2 separate regions of the Homo sapiens genome follow, and region 1 is linked to region 2. Evidence: fine-mapped expression QTL. Tissue or cell type: whole blood. Region 2 holds a variant in brackets; the other region holds the start of a gene. All regions are shown on one strand. Distances are between the middles of the regions. Region 1 holds the start of SH3BP5 (SH3 domain binding protein 5). Region 2 overlaps SH3BP5 (SH3 domain binding protein 5).

Region 1 (12,561 bases), 28 kb before region 2:
GCAGCACATACCCCAGGCCTGATCCCACCAGTCGCTTCCAGTTTGCAGCCTCTGACCTAAAGTGCCACGTAAATATCACTGGTGGAGAAAGAGGGGATGCTAGTTATCAGTTTCTTCCGATATTGACACCAGAGTGTGATGTGAATGCAGATTCATTCTTAGTCCAGACAGCAGTTTCTGTTCTAGGAGTTAACAGGTAGTTACGAAGCATTTAATTTAATTTAATGTATTTATTTAGAAACAGGGTCCCTATCTGTTGTCCAGGCTGGAATGCAGTAGTGTAGTCTTGGTTCACTTCAGCCTCAACCTCCTGGGTGCAAGCAATCCTCCCATCTCAGCCTCTGGAGTAGTTAGGACTACAGGTGCACACCACCACACCTAGCTAGTTTTTGTATTTTTTGGTAGACATGGGGTCTTGCTATGTTGCCCAGGCTGGTGTTGAACTCCTGGCTTCAAGCAGTCCTCCCACATTGGCCTCCCAAAGTGCTGGGATTACAGATGTGGGCCAGCACGCCTAGCTCACAAAGCATTAAAAAAAAAAATTGGCATTGCAAGGAATCTTAATTTAAATGGCATTGAAATTTGACAGAAAGGGTCTTAACTTCACAATGAGGGATTGACTTGGCTGCTGCTTTGGGGCACTTTTTTTTTTTTTTTTTTTTTTTGAGTCAGGGTCTCACTCTGTCACCCAGGCTATAGTGCCATGGCACTTCCTTAGTTCACTGCAGCCTCGAGCTCCTGGGCTCAGGGGATCCTCCTGCCTCACCCTCCTGGGTAGTTAGGACTATAGGTACACACCACCACACTCCGCTAATTAAAAATTTTTTTTTGGTAGAGATGTGGGGAGGCTCTTACTATGTTGCCCAGGCTGGTCTTGAACTCCTGGCCTCAAGCGATCCTCCTCCCTTGGCCTCTCAAAGTGCTGGGATTACAGGTGTGAGACCTGGCCTGGGGCCCAGGTTTCATGAGGGCCTGTCTCCCCAAGTAAAGGACTAGGAATTTGTCATCTACATGTTTGGGACCCTCAAACTGGCCCCAGAAATAGTGTATGCATATAGTAGGGGCTGAAAAGTGTACTGAATTAATGTTGCTTTCTGCAGATCTAGATCTAAAAACAAAAAACAGAACAAAAATACAAATGAATTAATGTTGTTGATCACTTTCACTTGCAAACTTCAGTTTAAAAACATTAAATAAAAACTCTTGGCCGGGCACGGTGGCTCTCGCCTGTAATCCCAGCACTTTGGGAGGCTGAGGTGGGTGGATCAGGAGTTCAAGACCAGCCTGGCCAACATGGTGAAACTTCATCTCTACTAAAAATATAAATATTAGCTGGGTGTGGTGGCAGGCGCCTATAATCCCAGCTACACAGGAGGCTGAGGCAGGAGAATAGCTTGAACCCAGGAGGCGGAGGTTGCAGTGAGCTAACACCACCGCACTCCAGCCTGGGTGACATAGCGCGACTCTGTCCCAAAAAAAAAAAAAAAAAAAAAAACTAAACTAAAAAAAACCCCAACTCTTTGGCTGAGTGTGGTGGCTCACGCCTATAATTCCAGCACTTTAGCTTAGCTACTAAGTACAGGTAAAAAGTAGTAAGACTGTGGGATTGAACCAGGGTTGGGATTATGCCAAGTGCTTACAGTGGTCGGGGAGAAGCGTGAGGGAGTTGTGGTTGACTGTAGTGTGGTGATTTTAATGATGGACAATGGAATCTAAGCTAGATCAAATGGGAAGTGTGGACATAAGAGGGTGAGGGACTGTAAAAGAGTCTAGGGAGCCATGATGAAGCCCTGAATCAAGGGTTAGAAAGATGGGAATGATTTGGAGACTATACTATAGGAAAATCCACTCGTCCTTGCTGACTGGGTTCACTGGGACTCTCAAACCATAGGTGGGTCCTTAGCGCAACCTGGCGATTATAATATATTCCCATGGTCAACTCAGTCACCAACTGTCCCTGCAAGCTCTTTCACAAAGCCTCTCTCCTCCAACCTCCATTGCCCTCTGCCCCACATCCCCTCATTCTCAGCTGATGATGTGGCTCATTACTTTGCTGAAAAAACAGAAGCAATCAGAAGAGGCTGATCATCAGGCTAATGGATCTCCTTTGTCTCCTCTGACCCTAGCTCCTCAATGTCCACCGAGTCAATTTCTCATACACTAGCCAGAGTTATTACAGGAGCACTCACTCAGAACAAAATCCAAATTCCTTACCATGACCTAAAGCATCTCCGTGGCCTACCCACATGCTTGCCTCTGATTTCATCTCCCTCCCTCTCTCCCTGGCTGTCTCTGTCCTACCCACATGGATCTCCTTGCTTTTTTGCCAACACCCAAGGCATATTCCCACCTCAGGACCTTTGCACATGCTGCTGCAGTCTCTGGAGTGCTTTTCCCCCAAAAGTATATGTGGTACGCTTTCTCATTTCTTTCTTTCTTTTTTTTGAGACGGAGTTTCACTCTTATCGCCCACGCTGGAGTGCAATGGTGCCATCTCGGCTCACTACAACCTCTGCCTCCTGGGTCCAGGTGATTCTCCTGCCTCAGCCTCCAGAGTAGCTGGGATTACAGGCATAAGCCACCATACCTGACCAGTATGCATTATTTTAAATTTATCTTTAAATTCCACAAAACAATCATAAACATATCTTCCTTGTGAAAAATAAAAACATTACTGAGAAACTAACATTCCTTTGATCCCCTGCCCCCATCCCAGACAATCCTAGGCCACGCCCTGCTCCCTTTTTCCCAGAGGTAGCCACTCTTTACTGGGTATAAATCCTTCCAGGCCTTTTGCTATGCATTTATGTGCACTACATATGTGCCAATAGGGAATATATACAGTTGTCCCTTGATATCCCTGGGGGATTGGTTTCTGGACCCCTGCAATGCTAAAATCTGAGATGCTTATGTCCCCTGTAGAAAATGGCAGTGTTTACATATAACCTACATACAACCTCCTGTATACTTTATTTAATTTATTTTTTCATTAAAAACATTTTTTTTTTGAGATAGGGTCTCCCTCTGTCACCCAGGCTGGAGTACAGTGGCATGATCGGGGTCACTGCAGCTTTGACTTCCTGGGCTCAAGTGATCTACCTCAGCCTCCAGAGTAGCTGGAACTACAGGCATGTGCTACCATGCCTTGCTAATTTAAAACAATTTTTATTAGAGATGAGGTGTTTCTTTTTTCTTTTTTTTTGAGAGAAAGTCCTACTCTGTCGTTCAGGCTGGAATGCAGTGGTATCATCTCGGTTCACTGCAACCTCTGCCTCCTGGGTTCAAGCGATTCTTCTGCCTCAGCCTCTCGAGTAGCTGGGATTACAGGCATGTGCCACCATGCCCAGCTAATTTTTGTATTTTTACCATGTTGTCCTGGCTGGTCTCAAACTCCTGACCTCAGGTGATCCACCTGCCTCGGCCTCCCAAAGTGCTAGGATTACAGATGTGAGCCACCATGCCTGGCCTAGAGACCAGGTCTTGCTTTGTTGTCCAGGCTGGTCTCAAACGCCTGGCCTCAAGCGATCGTCTCTCCTGCCTCGGCCTCCCAAAGGACTGAGATTACAGGCATGAGCCACCACATCTGGCCCCTCCTGTATACTTTATTATTTATATATATATATTTATTTTGAGACAGGGTCTTGCTGTCACCTAAGCTGGGGGGCAGTGGTGCAATCTCAGCTCACTGCAACCTCTACCTCCTGGGCTTAAGCAATCTTCCCATCTCAGCCTCCCAAATAGCTGTGACTACAGGCATGAGCCACCACACTTGGCGAATTTTTTGTATTTTTTGTAGAGATGGTGTTTCACCATGTTGTCCAGGCTGGTCTTGAACTCCTGAGCTCAAGCAACCCACCCACCTTGGCTTTCCAAAGTATTGAGATTACAGGCATGAACCACCATGAGCAGCCCCTCCTGTATACTTTAAGTCAGCTCTAGATTTCTTACCTGCAATACCTAATACAATGCAAATATGTACATAGTTGTCATATACTGTATTTTTTTTTTTTCTAGAGAGCAAGGCAGTCTCGCTTTGTTGCCCAGGCTGGTCTGGAACTCCCGGCCTCCAGTGATCCTCCTTGCCTCAGCCTCCCAAAATGCTAGGATTACAGGTGTTAGCCACCACTCCTGGCCATGTATTTTTAAATATGCATTTTTTTAATTGTTGTGTTTTTTTCCCCCAAATATTTTCTATCTGTGGTTAGTTGAATTTACACATGTGGAACCTGAGAGGCTATGGAGGGTTGACTGTATATAGTACTGCCTGTGGTTTATTTATTTTTCTCATTTTATCTTTAGAAAGACTATTAGGATTAACACTATAGCTGGCCCAGATCTCCAAAAAATAAGACAACAAAAGTCTGAACTGATGTTCTTGAGCAGTTGGCCTATGTCTCATAGATGTATTTTGCTCTTGACCTAAGCTTAAGCAGGAATGTAGTTTGGAGTTTGCCATTTAGAATGGAGAGGATAGGGTTCTGCTAGCTGAGAAGCATTTATCATAGTCAGGGCTGACCCCAGAGTTCTGTTTATTTCAAACTCTGTCTCTCAGTTCATTCAGAGCTAGGATGTACCTGCAAAGTTGGAGGCTCAATTCCAAGCCACCAGAGAAGGTTGGTGGCTCCTGTGTTCCAAAGTGACCCCTATGGCTATCTTGTTCCTGGCTTCATCTATCATTGGAAAACCAAAAGCAACTATGTCTTTAGCAAGGAGCTTTGAAGCACCTCTCACAGAATTGCTGACTCATCCTTGATTTAAAGAGCAATGAACAGGTCTGACCTTTTTAGAAACAAACCATGGCACTACCTCCAGGAGACAGGACAAATTTCCTTTGACAGTGGACTACAGTGCCAGCGTGTATGGGGTGGTGCCTTGCCCAAGGAGTAACCCTCTAGCCTAGTTTCTGATAAAACCACCAGGAGCAGGACTATTTATTCATTTGAGAAGGGGTCTGGCTGTATTGTCCAGGCTGGTGTTGAACTCCTGGCCTCAAGTGATCCTTGTGTCCTGGCATCTCAAAGAGCTGGGATTACAGATACGAGCCACCACGTTGTGCCAGACCCAGGTTTTGTAAGGTGGCTTTGATGATAGGTTCTCAGAAAGAAGCTCCTTTCTCAAGCAAATTTGTCCTCCAAACTCAGAGCCGATGGGCTACAGGCCTCCGTGTAGGACATGTGCACGTTCTGCATTTCTCAAGGCAAGGAGACGTGAGCAGCCATGTGCTCATCTGCTTTGCCAAGGTCATCCTTTGCGTTCCCCTGACATCACAGTGGCCCTGACATTTCATAAAAGCACACACACGTGCCTCTTCAGTTTGGCCTTTTCGGATGCTGTGTCTGCCAGGCCAACTCTGTCTCCCTACTTGTTGATGGTGGGCAGAAAGTCTCACTAATTCATAAATTCTTGGCCAGAGTGTGCCCATCAACAGGGGTTACACTTGCCACCTCCTTAAATCCCAGCTCAATGCATTCTCCATGCTCCTGGCTATTCAGGTAGGACCGCCGCACCTCTGTGTTTCGGTATGGGGCTCGCCCAGAGAGGCCGCAGCCTTCGGCAATGCATCAGTGCACGGAACCTCCGCCATTCCCAAGGTTCGCTCAAGAGGATGAGTGTGCTTTGGGTATAGGGTTTCGGCAAGTCTTGGTCCTGAGGGCCAGGGTCACTGAGCGTAGGCTTCAGAAGGCGACTTCAGTGTGAAAACACCCACGCCTCCCTACCACACAAACAACGAGCCTCGGAGGAGGGCTGGAGGAGGGGACTCCCGAAAGCGGGAGGCTTGCGTTACGTAGTTGAGATATATCCGAGCTGCTAAGTTACAAGGGGGTGGGGGCTGTCCTATTTTGCCACCTTGGAGATGTGGAGGGAGCTGGGGTTTTGCGACGGAGACCTGGATAGCTGGGACTGGCGGCGGAACGCGAGGCCGGGGCGGGACGGGGGCGGAGCGGGCGCTGCGCTGACTGCCGCGGCAGAAAGGGGGCGGCCGCGCCCATTTCCTCTGCTCCGCCGCGGCCGGAGGTATCCGCATCGGCGAGCTGCGTCTCCCGGGTGTCGGCCCCGGCGGCTCCCCGACCGTGCCCGGCTGTGGCGAGGCGGCTCCAGCCCAGCCTGTGGCAGCCGCGACCCCCGGGGCGCTCCGGAGCCCACTGCGCGGCGCGCGTGCCGGCTGCCTGCATGGACGCGGCACTGAAGCGGAGCCGCTCGGAGGAGCCAGCCGAAATCCTGCCGCCTGCCCGGGACGAGGAGGAGGAGGAGGAAGAGGGGATGGAGCAGGGGCTGGAGGAGGAAGAAGAGGTGGATCCCCGGATCCAGGTAGGGCGCGCGGGGTCGCCCCGCATCCGGGCTTCGCGAGGGCTGCTACGGAGGTCGGTGTCTACGCGTACAGCCACTTCGCAGCCCCCAGTAACTGTGGTCCGGGGACTGGCGGCCACATAGGGTGGCAGGAGACGGTCTGTATGCTCCGTTTCATCGTCTCCACAATGAGGAGGCTACAGTGCCCGCGTGGATGCGGCCTGACTCTATTGCGGGGAGTCCCCCGCCGACCCGTAGCAGGATCGGGGTCGGTGCAGCGTGCCTGGTGGTTCGGGTGGATGTGCAACAAAGGGAAAAAGGGGGCGGGGGCGCCATGGTATCCTCGGGGGTACCCCTGCCCGGCCGCGGCACCGCGGGCATGGCACGGCGTCCAGGCTCTGCGAGGAGGTGTCGCCCGCGTGGGCGCCGGGCACCGTGGGCGGGTGGGCGTTGCCCTGCAGCGCGGGCTGGCACCGGTGCCCCGGGTGCAGAGTCCTCACTTGCCAAGGTGCCCGGCCTGAGCCGTTTTCCTTCTCTGATTGATTGTTAGCGAACTGAGCGGCTTATTGTCATCACTGGCTCAACGTTCTGCCTGGCTTGAAATTGCTTAAAACCCTGCTTTTCCTTGTTGTGAGGTTGGGCATGAAAAGAAATCGGGGACAACTGATGCGCAAAGCTGACGCGTGGAGGCGGCGAGGGGATTGGGCTGGCTGGCTGTGCCTCCATTTCCAAGAGAGATGATTAAAAAACAATTTCCAAGCCGAGATCTAGGAGTGACAGTTTCACCTCTTCACCCCTAAGCAAAAAGCAGAGCAAATCCCTTTCTAAGGCCCGTTTTTTTTCTACCTTTTCAATAAATCATTTTTTTAAAAAAATTGCTTTTAAGCATGCTCTGTAATTTCTGGATACCTAATTGGTTTTTTAGTGCACAGATCAATTTAAAAGCTCACTTAACTCAGTGGTTGGGGTTTAAATGAATTGTTTTGTCAGCTTAGCAAGATAAAGATCAGGTGGAAAAAAAATCCTTGCATTAGGAATGCTATTAATTAAAGTAATTGGTTTGGAATAAATCGTGTGTTACTGGTATGGGATTATGTTAGCAAGATCCTTTGTTTGCATAGTAATGATGAGTTAAGTTCATGTTGGATACTTTTTTTACAAAATGTCAGTTTGTAAATGTTTATTGAAAGGAATGGGATTAAAGCTAGTTTAAAACGTCCAGCTAAGTAGGTTGAATAATTGGCAGTGTGAAAAGATTTTCACCCTTTACAGAAAAATAATTCTGGTGAGTTAATACCAGAATTCTGCCCTTGATGATTTCACTGGGTTTATATTTTTGGCTTGGCCTTGCTTATTGTCTTTTATTGTTTTCTAAGCAAAGTTCTTGCTCAAGGCAGATGGTACTGTTTTGATTAGGCCATTAAACCATTTGTAACAGGTGGGGTTTACCTGAAGGCATGTACCTGGAATAGTTGACCTCTGACAAATTCCAAATGTCTCTGAAGACATTGTCAAAAGGGACACCCTCAAGAAAATGGTTTCAGAAATGCCGACATTCATTTGCTTTTCTAGTCAAGCCTCAACTGTTTGCCGTAAGAATTAATTCTGATTCTTCCCTTTTCCTGCAAATTGGGCTGGGGTAATTTTTCAGGTTATGGACTGAGTTATATTGGAAACAAAAGACGGATCCCTTAAGTCTTTTTTTCTCCCTCTTTTCTTCACCAGGGAGAACTGGAGAAGTTAAATCAGTCCACGGATGATATCAACAGACGGGAGACTGAACTTGAGGTACAGAGAGCTGAGTTCCTGTTCTTGGTGAAGTGATGTCACTCACACCGGCACAAGGCTGGTTAATTTTGTCTTCATAGCTGGAGTGTTATTGCTGGACCCCCCTCCTTGGGAGTTGAGCAACAGCTCCCTGACAGAATAAAATACACCACTGAGCTCAACCTGTGGGCGGAACGCATGTGGATCCAATTGCACATGTTGTTTTTCATTATGGAAGCTCCATGGGGCCTAAACCAAGTCTGTGCAGAGCGTTACACAACGCTTAAGCCCCAAGTTTTAATGTGACTGAAAGGACAGGGGAAAATTAGCCGAACTCTTTAATGGAGAATAATGAATGAGCTCACAAAATCTCTTACATATTCAGGGCAGTTCCTGCCATTTGTCCTGGAGAGTGTTGTGTTGTTTCCTCTGACTTCGACCATTTCTTGACTTTCCTGTCCTAATAACTCACCCCCCGCCTCCTTCTGCTTCCCTGCTCATTTCTTTATTGTCTGCTAGTGCATAGAATATAATTATAATGGTAACAAAAAGCTGTTTAGACTGGGAAGGCCTTTCCTGCTGGGAAAAATCTTGGGAGACTAAAACTTGATTTGGGTTTCATGTGCATTTTCCAATGGGAGTGTAAACAAGTTAGCATTCATCACAGCCTCCGATTAGTTCCCACCCCTTTCCAGTAGTGGTTGCTTTTACCACCCATCAGCAAATTTGAACAACCACTATATGTATTCAGGAGACTGTGAATTGACTGTCAGAACCCCAAAGGGACTCTCAGCGCAGTTTCCCAATGCAGGGAGCTGTTGGCAAAGTCTGTTTCTGTAGCAGGAGAAATAGCAAACGTCAGTGGAAGGGACAAGAAGCACATGGTCCCTAAGAGTGAGAGTGTGGGAGATAGGAATATAATCTACCAGGATTCACTGGCAGCCTTGATTTCTGCTGCGTGCGTAGGCCCTGGAGTTACCAAATCTGGATGCAGCAATGTGGATGAAAAAGCCTGTTGCTCTGAGTTGCGTGAAGGGTTATCGCTAACCACCTCCATTTCCATCGTAGGTATACAAGAGCATGGGCTGTCCTTCTCCCCAAGTAAAGTAAAATCTGTGTTTGTTTACATTTCTTTCACTTATGAATTGAGTCTGTCTGTGATGTGGGGTAACTGAAACCTCTCAGGATCTCAGATTTCTAATGCATTAAACAACAAAACTCTTACCATTCCTATAGGGCTTTAGCATTTCCAGAGTGTTTTTTACACGTTTTAGCTCATTCCATCCTGTCACACCAGCCTAGAGCTATGCTGTCCCATATGGTAGCCATGTGCAACGTATGGCTATTTGAATTTAATTAAAATTTTTTTTTTTTTGAGACAGAGTCTTACTCTGTCGCCCAGGCTGGGGTGCAGTGGTGTGATGTCTGCTCACTGCAACTTCCACCTCCTGGGCTCAAGTGATTCTCATTCCTCAGCTTCCTGAGTAGCTGGGATTACAGGTGTGCACCACCATGCCTGGCTAATGAGTTTAATTAAAATTAAGTAAGACTAAAAATTCCATTTCTCAGTCACAATAGCCACGTTTCAAGAGCCCAGTTGCCACTATATTAAACAGTCCAGTTGCCACTGTATTAAACTGCTGTCATCATAGAATGTTCTGGCCTGGAGAGCTAGGAGGGTAGGGACTATTTACTTTCCAGATCAGGACTCAGAGGCTCAGCATCTTCTGGTACTATGACGCCTCAGAGGCAGGGCTCCCATCTTATACTCCCAGGCATTTTCCAGATCTCCTCCAGTTCCTGCATTCTATTATCCCAGTGCAGTGGTGCAATCACAGCTCACTGCAACCTCAAACTCCTGGGTTCAGGCAACCCTCCTGCATCATCCTCCCCAGTAGCTGAGACTACAGGTGCATGCCACCATACCTGGCTAATTTTTCATATCTTTAAGCTTTTTTGTAAAGATGGGATCTAGCTCTGTTGACCAGGCTGGTCTTGAACTCCAGGCCTCAAAGTGATCCTCCCACCTTGGCCTCCCAAAGTGCTGGGATCACAGGCATGAGTTGCCATACCCATCCTGGAAATAGTCTTTTTTTTTTTTTTTTAAAAGCATTGATTGATTCTAGTTGCTCGCCTACTATGTGCCGGCCACTGTTCTGGGTAATGAACAAGATGGCCCACATCTCAGCCCCAAGTGTGCTTACTTTCTTGGGGTGAAATTGGTTAATCTGTTAAACTCTTTTTAGCCCTTACTTCTGAATCCCATTTCTGAATACACTTAGGTATTTGTGTGTCACAGGAAGCCACCAGACAGGTGTTTCCTGCCTGGCTCTGGAGAGCATTTGGAACCGTGTGAGAGGCGAACTGGAGGGTGTGAGGGGGGTGGCCAGGGCTGGGCTGGGTTGCTGGCTGGCCTTTTCACGGTATTATAACCAAGACTGACTCATAGAAATATAATACAGGCTACATAAGCAATTAAAAACTCCCTAGTAGACGCATTAAAAACGAAAAAGAAACAGCTGAAATGAATTTAAATATTTTGTTTAACCCGGAATATCCAAGACAGTACAATTTCAACGTGGACTTGCTATTAAAAAATTACTGATATTTTACATATATTTTTGTACTAAGTCTTTAAGATCTTTGGCATATTTTACACTTAGGGCACATTTCAGTTGAGACTAGACACGTTTCAAGTGTTAGCTACATTTGGCACTGGGAGGCATAGGTTTAATAGGTGTTTTCTGTCACAAAGGAGCCAGGTGGGATTTCACCCTTCATGCTGGGCACCAACTGCTTGTCAGACACTGTTGGCCACTGCATTTATGTGGGTGAACAAGACAAAGACCTTGCCCTCCAGGAGTTTACGTTTTTGGTTGGGGTGAGTAGCAGAGCGGGGGTAATAATTACTGGTGGTAATAGCTACAGTAAGAAGTGTGACAGAGACACTGGAGGGGCGCTGCTGGAGGACACCTGAGCAGATGCCTGCAGGGGAGCCTCTGTTTGCAGAAGAACAGGTGGAGTGAGCCACTGGGGTGGTCAAGGGGAGTATGCCCAAGGATGGGGGCAGGAAAATGAGCCATTTTAATATACAGTCAAGTGTTTTGTTTTGTTTTTTTTTTCCTGAGACGGAGTCTCACGCTGTCGCCCAGGCTGGAGTGCAATGGCGTGATCTCGGCTCACTGCAACCTCTGCCTCCCGGGTTCAAGCCAGTCTCCTGCCTCAGCCTCCCGAGTAGCTGGGATTACAGGCGTGCGCCACCATGCCTGGCTAATTTTTGTATTTTTAGTAGAGATGGGGTTTCACCATGTTGGCCAGGCTGGTCTCGAACTGGCTGGTCTTGAACTCCGGATCTCGTGTCGTCGCTACCCCCCTCCCCACCGCCACTGCTGTCTCAGCCTCCCAAAGTGCTGGGATTACAGGTGTGAGCCACCGTGCCCAGTCTTGTTTTTGTGGTACTTGTATTCCATAAAGTTGTGAACACTGAATTAGTGAATACGGAACCATTGTTGTAGGGAAAATGCAGGGCTTGGAGCAAGCCTGTGGTCACATTTTCATCAACTGATCAATATTAATCTTTTCAGTTTCCATTAAAAGACACTTTATTTACTATATACTATTGATTCATTAGCATTGAACTCAGGGCCACTCACCTAACATGTATTTGCTCTGTAAGCCACATCACAGCCTGCTCGTGCTCAGGAAAGCTCACTAGACAGCACTTCTGCACTTCCCTTATGGGCCATTTTAACAGCAAAATCACCAAAGAAAGCACAAAAGTGTGAAAGACATGGCACTAAGTAGACCATGAAAAGGACACTTGTTTACAGGATGGGCACTGAAAGCAGGAGGCAGAACGTCGCTCCTGTGTATGTCGGTGAATGAACCTGAAAGGGCTGCGTGTATTGATTTTGGGGTTACATATAAATTTTAGCGAGTAGACGAATTCACAAGTATGGAATTGGCAAATAATGAGATAGTCTACTTTCAGGGCCCCCAGGGGAAGGTATTCTGCTGTCCACATTTCCTTTCCCATTGCCTTTTGATTGCGATCTGGGGCGTTCGGCACCTCTCGTGATTTTTGTCTGATGAACCTGAATTGGTGACCAGGCTTCTGGTAGCTGCTAACGTGCTCTCACGCTGTGGTGCAGTTGTCTGTGGGTAGCTGGAGACTGAGGTGTTGCTCCTGAGGCCCACATTTAACATCCCATTTCTTGTCTTGGCCATTTAAATTCCAGATTGCAAAAGGGCCTCTGGATGCCAGCCATCTGCCGTGTCACTTGGATGTCTGTCTCTTCCTGCAACCTGGGTTTGCCTCTGACCTTATTTGAACAGTGCTGGGTCCCCTTTGCATGCTGATTTATATCAGCAAAAGCCAACCTTTTCAAGCTGTAAAAGGAGGAACCTTTTAACCAGAGAGCCCTTGGATATAAGCCTGATGTTTTAAGTTAGGAAAATAAGCATTTTCCCACAGATCCATTGATCAGTCAGCTTTATTTATTTATT
Region 2 (12,561 bases):
CCAAGCAGAGGGAACTGTTTAAGAACTCTTTCAAGTGCTGATCTAAAAACTCCCTTGGTAAACAGCCCTGGGATGGTAAACGGATTCTTTTTCTTGACTGGTGGAAGATCTGCTTGCTCTCTCAGATAAGTTTGTACTTTTGAGCCACTCCCCTCCATGGCTCATTTTCTGCAGGGAAAGCAGTCAGCTTACTCTCCTCCCTGGACATTCCTGAAGCCACCCCCACTCTGATCTTGGAAAACACATTTGCTTGTAATTGCAGGAGACAAAGGATCACAGTCAAGTCTTTTCTTTAAGAAACAAGACAGAAAGTCTAAGTTCAATTGTGGCAAGGTGGTTTTAAGATGTATTGAAAGAAATGCTTTATAAAAGCTAGGTTGAACTAAATTCCACAGACTCTGCTCCTTATACACATGGCTTTATTGTTAGGCTCTCCCCTCATGATGCCAGGATGGCTGCTATCTGCTGCAGGCTTTCATTCCATCCTCTTAAACATCTCAAGTGGAAGAAATTTCCTCTAACAGTTGCAGAAAGGTCCCGAAATGAAGTCTCATTGGTTATGATGGGTCATGTCTATCGCCCCTGCTCATCGAACAATCACTGTGGCTAGGAGTATGACTGTGGCCAGGCCCTGTCACATCACTAGGGACTGAGAGGTGGGGGTGAGGACCAAGGAATATTACGGCTGTAACACTGGGGAGACAGGAAAGATTTTGGTTTGTGGCCTCTCATACCTCAATACTTCTGGGAACTGTTACCCAAGTAGCTGTGATCCTCAGTGGAATGGAAACAACTGGGTGGGCTTTTTCTTATGGGGGGGGGGTGGAGCGGGGAAGACTGGCTTTGTGTTCAGTTTCAATGCATCTTTGATGAATAGGCTTGTTGGTGGTTGGAAGTCAGCCAGTCATGCATCATTCCTGGCAGCACAGCCTCATTTATAGAAGGAAACGCTGATGTCAAATCAAGTCTTCTGGGTTTAATACCCTTTGATGGTCACACACTTAGTACAGATAGTCACAAAAAGGGCATCAAGTCAGACTGGCAGGCCCTGAACCTGCCCATCAGAATCACCTGAGGAGTCTTTTAACATACTCTGCACCCAGGTAACAATTTTGTAAAACCTAAATTTGATCAGGTCATGCCCCTGCTTAGAAAAATCTATGATATTTTACAGTTGAAAACAAAAAAGCAGGCATGGTGTTGTACACCTGTAGTCCCAGCTACTTGGAAAGGGCAGGAGGATCCCTTGAGCCCAGGAGTTTGAGGCCACAGTGTGATATGATCATGCCTGTGAATAGCCACCATACTCCAGCCTGGGCATCATAGCAAGACTCTGTCTCTTAAGAAGACAAAAACCCCATCGATTCTCGGCCTTTTGGCTAAGATCAAGTGAAAACAAAAACCCAAAAAACCCCCAAAAACAAAAACACAAAATCAAACAAAAAGCCCTATACTATCCCATTCTCCCACCCTACCCCTGTTTTTTTCTCCCCTAGCCAGTTAACTATATTAGTTTAATGTATTTTAGCTGATGGAGGTATTTATTTCTATGACCAAGTAGTATGTATTGTGTGACTACTTCTTGATTTTTTTCATTTGAGTGACTATCTGTGGACATCCTGCTATGGAAGATGAGGTTTTGTCTCTTTTCACCCTCTGTCCTGTACTTTTCCCATCTGCTGTCTTCTCAGCAGAATCCATTGTGGTCAGTATTTGATTACTTTATTGCAGCTAGGTAAGTGCTATTCACAGTTGAGCCATCTAGTAAACTATGATTATGTTTCCTTTTTGTGGTAGAATGCATTCTTTAATTATTTCTGACAAAGGGTGCATTGGAAATAAATTACTTGAGACTTAAGTAACCCTATGGGAAGAAAACCCATCACATAGAACTAGGTTAAAAGGTTTGATTTTGAGATGTGATTTATGGCCAAAGGAAGAGAAATGGCAAGTAGAGAATAGCAGAGGGAGACAGAATTTCAGTGATGAACTAGCACCAGAAAATCTTCTGCAAAGAAAGAAACAAGAAGTAATCTCCCCTTCTCCCCACTGTGCCATGCCCTCCCATTGTTCATGGGATTGAGTTCAGATGCCTTTATAATGGCCAGGAGGCGTCCTTGCTCCAGCCCCTACCAGGCCAGCCCGTCCGTCCGTGCTGGAGGGTCGAATGTCCCCCTTCTCTGTCTGGTGGAATCCTCTTTCTTCATGTCTGACTTGGGTTGGGTGGCCTTCTCAGCCGTGTGTCTGTTGCTCAACGTGTGTAAGTAGTCTTAGCACTGCTTGAGTTTAATTGTTCACTCTGCCATTTCCCAGCTCTGTGACCATGGGCAAGTTACCTTTCTTTTCCTTGCCTCTATTTCCTCCTTTATAAAATGTGAATAACAACAATAGCACCTACCTGTTAGGATTGTTAGCGATTGCACAAATTGGTGGGGTTAAAGCACTGACAGTAGTGCCTGCCACATAGCAGTCAGTCAGTCTGTGCCCTGTATCCATCCTTCTTTCTCCACAAAGGCAGCGTTGGTGGGTTGTATTCACCAGTGCCCCAGAGAGCTCTCAGCAAATCAGATATCTTTAGCGGCTGGGCAGGGAACCTGAATGAGTGATTCAGACACCAGAGTGATAGGGACTGGAGAGGAGGGTAACCCCTGCCTAAGGGGGCACCTTCTGCTCTGCTTCTAGCTATTTTTTTTCTTTAAATGAAAAGTTTGAGAATTCATTTTTTTTTTAAATGTGAATTTTCCCTGACGTTTACTACACAGCATATCAGCCAAATGTACTAAGCTTATTGGCCCGTAGGCCACTGCTTTGGGGCTCAATTCTCATTTAACAGAGTAGGCCTGGGGGTTGATGTGACCGGCTGTAGGCCACACGCTAACCGATCTGGCCCTCCGTTTTCTCACTGGTGTGAATGTGGACAGCACTGGCACTGGCCACCACCAGGGAGGTGACCGTGAGGATGCGGTCATGCATGCGAGTGCATCTTGCAGAGCGGCTGCCTGCACAGTGGAACAGGTTATTATGTCCACCGTGTCAGCTGCCCTCGCCTCTGGGAAACTCCCTGGGTGGTTTTTAATAGGGTCTCAGGGTCTCTTTTTATACCAGGAGGAAAAAAATTGTATGCATTTATTGAGCACTGACTGTGTGCCCAGAAATTGTTAAATGTTTTACATTTGTATTCTCCTTGATTCCTTCTAAGAGCCCTCCCTATGGGATGGAAAGTAACAATTTTATAGGTAATACAAATGGTTCATAGAGACGGCCCTGATTAGGGCCTTGCAGAAAGAGCTTTAGTCAGCAGTGAATCTGTGTTTCTGATTAAAATCCTGGGCTTTGACAGCATGCTGCTTCCCTCTTATTGGAAGCCAAGTCCTGTAGAAGCTCTGTGGGGCTTCTCTATTCCTTGGGCCCTTCCCCTGGAGAACAAGTCTAGTCTTGTCTTCTGCCTGTAGAAGCTGCAGCGGATGACCCTAAGCCTGGTCTGATAAGGGAGAAGGCAGAGGAAATCAGGATGATGATGATGGCACAGAACCAGGGGAAAGGGGGCAAAGCCTGTGTTGGACATGGGATCCAGGCTCGGGAGCTGAGGTGCTCCCATGGGAGGTAAAGCTTTTATCCTCATATTTTGGAATGCCGGCGGCGTTTTCAAACCCACTAGCAAGCCAACAGCTTGGGATGATGGAATGAATTAGAACTGATCAGAGCCTCCTTTGCCCCCATGAAACCCCTGCAATTGCATGTTTAGAAATAAAATGTCGGCTGGGTGCCGTGGCTCACACCTGTAATCCCAGCGCTTTGGGAGGCCTAGGCGGGTAGATTACTTGAGGCCAGGAGTTTGAGACCAGGCTGGACAACATGCGAAACCCCATCTCTACTGAAAATACGAAAAAAAAATTAGCTTGGCGTGGTGGTGCACACCTGTAGTTCCTGCTACTTGGGAGGCTGAGGGACGAGAATTGCTTGAACCCGGGAGGCAGAGGTTACAGTGAGCTGAGGTCATGCCACTGCACTCCAGCCTGGGTGACAGAGTGAGACTCTGTCTCAAAATAACATAAAATTTTTCTGATAGTTACTTGTGAGGCAGGCCCCTCTAGCCAATGAAACACATGTTTTACCAGCAGGTGGGTGTTGAGTCTCCAGGCCCATAGCTCATGATCATGTGTTGTTCTTTTGGAGTATCCACTTCCCCTTTCTTTTCTTTTCTTTTCTTTTGTTTTTGTTTTGAGACAGGGCAGGGTCTGTCGTCCAGGCTGGAGTGCAGTGGTGTGATCTTGGCTCACTGCGGCCTCAACCTTCTGGGCTTAAGCGATCTTTCCGCCCTGGCCATAGGCACACGGCACCATGCCCAGCTAGTTTTTTGTTTGTTTGTTTGAGACGGAGTCTCGCTCTGTCTCCCAGGCTGGAGTGCAGTGGCGCGATCTTAGCTCACTGCAAGCTCCGCCTCCCGGGTTCACGCCATTCTCCTGCCTCAGCCTCCCAAGTAGCTGGGACTACAGGTGCCCACCACCATACCTGGCTAATTTTTTTTTGTATTTTTAGTAGAGATGGGGTTTCACCTTGTTAGCCAGGATGGTCTCGATCTCCTGACCTCATGATCCACCCGTCTCGGCCTCCCAAAGTGCTGGGATTACAGGCATGAGCCATGGTGCCCGGCTGCCATTTCTCTTTTTTTTTTAAACTCATGCATGTGTCCTTCCTTCCCCTAGGTGTGGCTTTGTCAGGCAGATGCCTGAGGGAGAGGTAGAGGGGATGTGGGGTTTGAATCACTGACCTGATCCCTTCCAATAGGTCCTCCTAGACCTGGGACTAACTTATTTAATTTTTTTTTTCTCTCCTTATACCTCTTGGATCTGGTTTCTTGACTTTTACAACATGATTAAGCCTTGCACAGTCCTTCTTTGCCTTCCTAACTCCTATCAAGGTCCAAGTTGCTAGTTGCTGTCGCCAGGATGGATGGCCACCCTTATCTCTTGCCATTCTCCACATTCCAGACCTCCGGCCTCCTTCAGTTTCTTGCAGACACCATGCTGTTCCCATTCCCCTCTTATCTGGACACAGGCTCTGCTGCCTGCTTGGGACTCAGTATTTTCCTCCCCTCCCCCAATTTCCTATTCATGCTTTGGACTTCTGTTTAGATAGTACTCCTCTGGAAGTTTCCTGTGACTCTCCCTCTAATACATGGTCTGGCGCCATTCTTCCCTGCTGAGTTCCATGGCGACTGGACCATTCCCACCCTGGCACTGACTTTTCTGGAACGGGCTGTAATACCTACCTCACCCACCAGGCTGTAAGTGCCCTGGAGACAGGGCCACGCCCAAGGCCCAGCACCAGGTCTGGCATGTGGTAAATAAATAAATAAATTTGCACTCAGTGTTTAACATTGACAGCATCATTTGGACTGAAGCTGTCAGAGATGGCTGGACATTCTTCCCCAGATAGAGGTTTGGTCAGTGTTGAATCTATGTCTCTGATTAAAGTCCTGAGCTTTGACAACATGCTGTCCAGAGGTCCTGGACAAAGCTTTTTAATCTATACCGTGCTATGCAATATAGTAGTTGCTAGCCATGTTAATTAAAAAATTTTAAATATAATGAATTAATTTTTTTTTTTTTTGAGACAGTGTCTCACTCTGTCACCCAGGCTGCAGTGCAGTGGCACGATCTCGGCTCACTGCAACCTCTGCCTCCTGATTCAAATGATTGTCCTGCCTCAGCCTCCTGAGTAGCTGGGATTACAGGTGTCCCCCACTATGCCCGGCTAATTTTTGTATTTTTAGTAGAGACGGGCTTAATTTCCAAAGGGTCCATCCTACCGATATCTCCCCCACAGTGCACAGCATGTTGTGCACATACACAGTAGGTGCTCAGAAACTTTGCGTTGTTGTTGCTTACTAAGCTTTTTTTTTTTTTTTTTTTGAGACAGAGTCGTGCTCTGTCACCCAGGCTGGAGTGCAGTGGCATGATCTTGGCTCACCACAAGCTCTGTCTCCTGGGTTCAAGAGATTCTTGTGCCCCAGCCTCCTGAGTGGCTGGGACAGCAGGTACCTGCTACCACGCCTGGCTAATTTTTGTATTTTTAGTAGAGATGGGGTTTTGCCATGTTGGCCAGGCTGGTCTCCAACTCCTGACCTCAAGTGATGGGCCTGCCTCGGCCTCCCAAAGTGCTGGGATTACAGGCGTGAGCTACCACACCCGAG[A/C]TGATTAAAATTAAATAAACTAAAAACTCCTTTCCTCAGTCACACCGGCCAGTTTTAAGTGCTCAGTAGCCACACGTGGCTGGTGGCCGCCACACTGCACTGTGCAGAGCACAGGACGTTTCCGCCGTGGCAGGAAGCTGTTTTGGGCGGTGCTGCTCTAGACACTGTCTTGTAAAGGTGCTACTTTAGGGGTCTGTACGTTGGGTAAAGTCCTTTGTTGATGTTTCTGTCTAGGTCCAGTAGGTGTTTGCAGATCCCTTCTTAAGCCTCAACTGTGTTTCCTCGGTTTCCCCTGGCTGCAGGATGCTCGTCAGAAGTTCCGCTCTGTTCTGGTTGAAGCAACGGTGAAACTGGATGAACTGGTGAAGAAAATTGGCAAAGCTGTGGAAGACTCCAAGCCCTACTGGGAGGCACGGAGGGTGGCGAGGCAGGTAAGATAGCCCCATAGATGTCTCCCCTACCTCGAGCCTCACTACCCCTCAGTTTTAAGGGTGCCTTTGACTGTATCACCTGCTGAAGGTTAGAAGCTCGAGTCCAATATGTCTTAAATGCAGTGACCCACCGCCCCGCAATCTGCTTCATTCCAGTGCTCGACACTATTAATAGGGTGTGAGTGCTGGCATTTGGATGACCCTGCAAGTGGGTGCTCTCCCTGAGTTGGTGCTGAGTGCACTTAAGGGGACGTGTCCAGAGGGTGTTCCTCCTCCGCTCCTAATGACAACCTGTCAGACAGCAGTAGGAAGATTCGCTTACTGCCTCGCGTTCGCCTCACTCTTGGGAGTGTTTAGCCTTCTGCTTCTCTTGAAACATCGGTTCTTCTTCTTTTTCTTTTTTTTTTTTTCCTTTTTAAGATTTGGCAGGTGAGTTGTTATACACTCCTTAGCGGATTCTGACTTCCGTGGCCATCGTCCTGCTGAAACTTTGGTTCTTTGTCCTGAGAGCCCAAATAAGAAGCAGTGAAACGGAGACCAGAAGGGGAGTGGCGGAGGGGACTGTGATCAGGCGATTGCTGGGGGCTGCGTGGAAATGGGTTCTGGTTTAGGAGTTGGTCTTCCTTTGGCTGCTGTGTGACGCGATGTGCCACTTGTGTCACCTGCAGCCTCTGATAGCCAGGCCCTGTGAATGGGGAAGGTAAAGAGCCCTCAACAGTTACTAGTACCTGCTGTGTGGCAGGCTCTGGGCTGGGGGCTTTATTCACCTTCCTCAGCCTGCTTCGGCTTCCCGATTAGAGAGCTAATGTGAATCACCAACCCTGTGATGCCTCTTGAGATGAGAGTTCAGATTTCCCAAGAAGATCTAAGCAGTTGGTCCAAATTGTAGTTCACTAGCAAATGACCCAGTGCTGTCCCTGTGGTGTGTTTATGACATGATGGAAGATGCTGCCTTCAAAAGTGTCCACTTGTAAGAAGATGTTTAGTGAGGCTGGGCATGGTGGCTCACACCTGTAATCCCAGCACTCTGGGAGGCCGATCACTTGGTGGGCAGATCACTTGAGGTCAGGAGTTCGAGACCAGCCTGGCCAACATGTTGAAACCCCTCTCTTCTAAACATACAAAAATTAGCCGGGTATGGTGGTGGGCGCCTGTAATCCCAGTCACTAGGGAGGCAGAGGCATGAGAATCGCTTGAACCTGGGAGGTGGAGGTTGCAGTGAGCCGAGATCGTGCCACTGCACTCCAGCCTGGGCGACAGAGCACAAATGTGTCTCAGAAAAAAAAAAAAGAAAGAAAAAATGAGAGAGCAACAACAATGCAAAGTTTCTGAGCACCTACTGTGTATGTGCACAGTGTGTTGTGCACTGTGGGGGAGATATCAGTAGGATGGACCCTTTGGAAATTAAGTCCCAGAAATCTAGGAATATATTAAGATAGACCCATAGAGAATGAGGGCCAGGACTTAACCATTCCTCTTCTTTTTCCTATTTCCATGCACCTCTCATTTCTCTTCAAGGGAGCCCCTTGCTGCTTTGGGAGTTCTACCAAGATCGTACCTGTGTGTTTGGGTTTTATGCTCTGAACCCTGAGCTGAAGTTCCTGGTTGGACCTTGCCAGATATGTTGCCTTTATTCCTAGACAGAGTGGCTGCCTGAAACCCTTCTTTCTTCCCTGGCCTGGTGCATTGGGCTGTATACTTCAAAGTTCTGATTGCTCGTTGGTCTGCACAAGCCCTGAGCAGCAGCCACTCCCTTTTTCCATCTCCAGCTGGGCCCTGCCCAGGCCTCTAGAATTCCCGGGAGAAGAAACCCTTCTCCAAAAAGCACTTTCCAATTCCCACAGATTCCAGCACCCTGAGGCATTCCCCCTCCAAAGTGTCCACGTTGGATTAATCTTTGAGATGCCCCCCAAGTTGAGGATGTGTCCTACCCACTGTAGGCCAAGGTTGTATCATTCTTGACCTGAAACGGAAGTATGGAGGGTTCAGGTTAGGTTTGAGGAGAAGCTTCTGAGGATTTAATTTAAACATTGGATAAATATCGAGGAATTCAGAAAACCTCCTTTCCTGAAAGTCTTTAACACTGGGATTTATGGTTCTGTGATGCCATTTAGCCCACGCGTATCTATTAAAAGCAGCCCACGTGCCCATGCTGCAGAGTGATTGAAGGATGGTCTGTTGAAGCATCCCACTGGAGTCGCGGCAGTGGCTTCTCTACCTGAAGTTTTCCTTGTCTGGTCCCTGAGCTCAGGTTTGGGGGCAGAGATGGCTCTAGGGGGCTTTGTGTTGGGGTTTCTCAAGGCTGGTCCTCTGATTCAGGTCACTCCCTTGGCTGTGCTGATGTGAAACGTGCTCCTGCCTCAGGTCTTTGGACTTGCCTTTCCCTCTGTTTGGTGGTGTCCCTCTGTTTGGCGATGTCCTGGTATTTTCATAGCCCGATTTCCTCATCTTCAGGTTTCTGCTCAAATGTCTATCCCTTTATCCATGAGGCCTTCTCAGGCTAACATTTAAAATGGTTAACTCCCAGCCCACCATCCCTGCCAGCCCCAGCCCCCATGCCTTGCTTTCCTTTTTCCCTGTGGGGCTTCTCCCCATATGACCTGTTATAATTTACTTGTTTACAGTAAGTGAAGCTCAGCAAGGGCAGAGAGTTTCATTCGTTTGGCTCCTTGCTGGATCTGCAATGCCAGCATACAGAAGGTGCTCAAATATTGTATAAATCAATAAATGAACAAACTAGTGAATGATGTTGGGGAGCCACCAACAGACCAGAGGTTCCTCCCCTGCCCTCCCTTGAAGTCATGAGCATTTCCTCTCCGTTGCTCCTTTACTCACAGCCTCTTTCCCACCTGGTAGCTAGGTAAGCAGATGGAGAGTGGCATGACTGGCAAATCCAGCCTCGTCTGGGTTGAGTTCATTCAAATCCCGTTTAGCAGTTGGGTCCCCAGCTGGCTGTGACACATCCTGGAGCAGATTTCACACCACTCCCTGCTCTTCTGCACCCCAAATCTTCTTTGTTGGGAAAAGAGGTAGGAGGGAGCTGGCTGGGAGGCTCCTAGTCTGTTGGGAAGCAGTGGATGGTGGCTCCTCTCCATCTCTTCATCCCTTCTCTTGGCTAGTGAGGACAATAGGGCAATTACTGAGTCCTGTGGGCAAGGCACTGAGTCATCGGTCGAATCAGATGATGCCCAGGTCCTGGGGATGAGTGAGTCACTCTTAATGGGCAGCTCCCAAGATGAATGTTGAGAGCATCCTGCCTGGCTTTATGCCTGCAAGCCCTCCCCGTAATCTCCTTCCTTCTTGCAGGTGGGCAGGAAGAAGCAGGGTAGAAAAGGTTAGATTCCTAATCTAACTCCTACCCCTCAACCCCAAGGGACCTTGTTGGTCAATAGCGAAGGAACTGGAAGGATGTTCAAAGGCTGAGGCAGGGCACAGATGTCACATTTCATCTCTGTGGAGGGTGGGCTGCTCAGGCCAGATGGATGAGCTTGTTTGTGTGTGAATGTTCCTCTCACCTTCCTGATGGTGAGGGGGGCGATGTCCACTTCCAGATGCTGCCAAGTAGGACTTCCTGTTTTCTTCCTCTTGTCCCCCCGCCCCCGCTTCCTTTTTATATTTACAAAGCTCTCTGGTTATGTACAGCAGGGAAATGGTGCCTGAGAGACTCCTTCAGATAGCAGTTCCTTCTAGTTTGAGTCAGGAGGCACTGCGTCCCCAGAGTCCCTGCATCCTCATTCATGAAATGCTGGCAGTCAAGGGAACAGCCCTGGCTATCTCATGAGGTTGGCCTTAGGATTTAAGTGAGATAATGTGTTTGACAATGGAATCCCAGCATGAGCTTGGGTTTCGGCTTCATTAAAAAATTAGAATTTATTGTAGAAAATTTAGAAAATAGACAGAAGAAAATAATCCTAGTACCTTCTCTTACTATTTGATGTATATCCCATATTTTTTTCAAAAAAAAGAAATAATGATAATTACATGATAGTCATGTATCAATGCATTTTCCACTTTTGATGGTTACATTATTATTATGTGAGAGAAGGTCCTTATTTGTAGGAAATAACAACTACAAAAAGTATTTGGGGGGGTGATGGAGCATCAGGTACTCACTCAAATGGTTGAGAGCAAAAAGTTATTTGTACTGTACTTTTTCTTAACTTTGTGAATATTTTGAAATAAAAGTACGTATGCCATTTGGAGAAAAAGAAGATAGCATAGTGGTGGTTTTTTATGTCTGGAATATCCATGTCTGTCTATTCCAGTGTCTGGAATATCCATGTCTATCTATCCACTGGAATATCCAGTGTCTCAGTTGAGGGTACTTAAAAGGGAAAAACCTCCCACACTTGATTTTCTTTGAAGAGTTTACAAAGATTTGTAATTTCAGCCTGGGCAACATGGTGAGATCTTGTCTCTATATGAAATAAAAAAAATTTAAAATTAGCTGGATGTAGTGATATGTGCCTGTGGTCCTAGCCCTTAGGAGGCTGAAGCAGGAGGATTGCTTGAGCACAGAAGTTCAAGGCTGCAGTGAGCCATGATGTCTCTCTTGTATTCCAGCCTGGGTGACAGAGCAAGACCCTGACTCAAAAAAAAAAAAAAAAAAAAAAAAAAAATCTAATTGTTGAGCTGGTGGAAATTGTATTGGTTCATTAAAAATTTGCATCGATTTTATTTTTCCTGATATGAGCTCATTTTTCAGCCAATGAGTCAGATCCAGTTCTGTGATCTTGAAAACCAAGTCCAATTTCTGCCAAGCAGAGGTAGAACATGATGTGTGTTTTCTGTGCCAGGTTGGGGGCAGGGCACTGGCTTTGATTTGAGAGTTTTTGTCCTTGAGCCCAAGCTTGTTTTTAAGGCTGCTTTGACATATCTGCCAGTCCATCTGGCCTTCAGCATATGGTAGGGGAGCAGTCTGATGAGGGCGGAGCCCATGTGAATCAATGACGCTGAAAAGCAGGGTGTATCTTGCTTACCTGGCTCCCTGGGTGCTGACTGGTCTAACAGTGGCTTTGGACCTGTCATTTTATCACTATCAGTCCCAACCCTTCTTTTTCTCCTCTTTAAGAAAATTGTGGTAAGGTACATACAACACAAAATGTACCATTTTTACCATTCTTTTTTTTCTTTTTTGCCTCTCCCCCATTTTAACCATTCTTTAAGGATGGCATTAAGGCATTCACATTGTGAATGCACATTCACTTGCTGTGCAACTCTTACCACCATCCATCTCTAGAACCCTTGCATCTTCCCAGACTGAAACTGTACCCATTCAACACTAACTCCCCAATCCTCCCCTCTCCCAAGCTCAGGCAACCATCACTTCTGTTTTCTATTTCTATGAATTTGACTACCCTAGGTACCTCATATAAGTACTGAGGAATCATACAATATTTGTCATTTCGTTACTGGCTTATTTCACTTAGCATAATGTCCTCAACATTCATCCATGTTATAGCATGTGTCAGAATTTCCTTTCACTGAATGTATATACCACGTTTTATTTATCCATTCATCCATGGACATTGGGCAACCCTTGTTATTTTTGAATGGTTGGAATGCGTCAGAAGAGAGCAGAGCACTTTGCAAACTTGATGGGCAGCACAAATGCAAAATAGTGCGGATTATTTAGTGCTGAAAGTTGCCTGTTTTGTGTCTGTGGGGCTATATAAGGCCATGTCTTACATATAACCTCCTTTAGGAAAGGAGATGAGTGGGAAAACATTTGAAACTTGTAGAGTGACTTGTAGGCTCACCTCTTAAAAGCTGTGGGACCTTTGGCAGGTTACCTAATCTCTGTGCCTCATTTTTTTTCATCCATAAAATGGAGTTGGCTAATTGAGGGATCTCAGGCCTGTAATCCCAGCACTTTGGGAGGCCAAGGCGGGAGGACTGCTTGAAGCCAAGAGTTCGAGGCCAGCCTAGGCAATG

The links.
Region 1: SH3BP5 starts here. The variant in region 2 is fine-mapped to the expression of SH3BP5 in whole blood (INTERVAL, PIP above 0.99).

Annotation. Positions count from the first base shown.
Region 1 is chr3:15,326,019-15,338,579 of GRCh38, reverse strand. SH3BP5 (SH3 domain binding protein 5) reads left to right here and starts at 5,994. Exons shown (of 9, transcript NM_004844.5): 1 at 5,994-6,309; 2 at 8,014-8,076. The coding sequence starts at 6,172. RefSeq lists silencers at 5,886-6,285, 6,366-6,425 and an enhancer at 10,320-10,509.
Region 2 is chr3:15,298,169-15,310,729 of GRCh38, reverse strand. It overlaps SH3BP5 (SH3 domain binding protein 5), which reads left to right. Exons shown (of 9, transcript NM_004844.5): 3 at 6,499-6,627. Among named protein-coding and RNA genes, the nearest start is that of SH3BP5, 28 kb to the left of the region's middle. The variant A/C (reference allele first, on the strand shown) is at 6,197.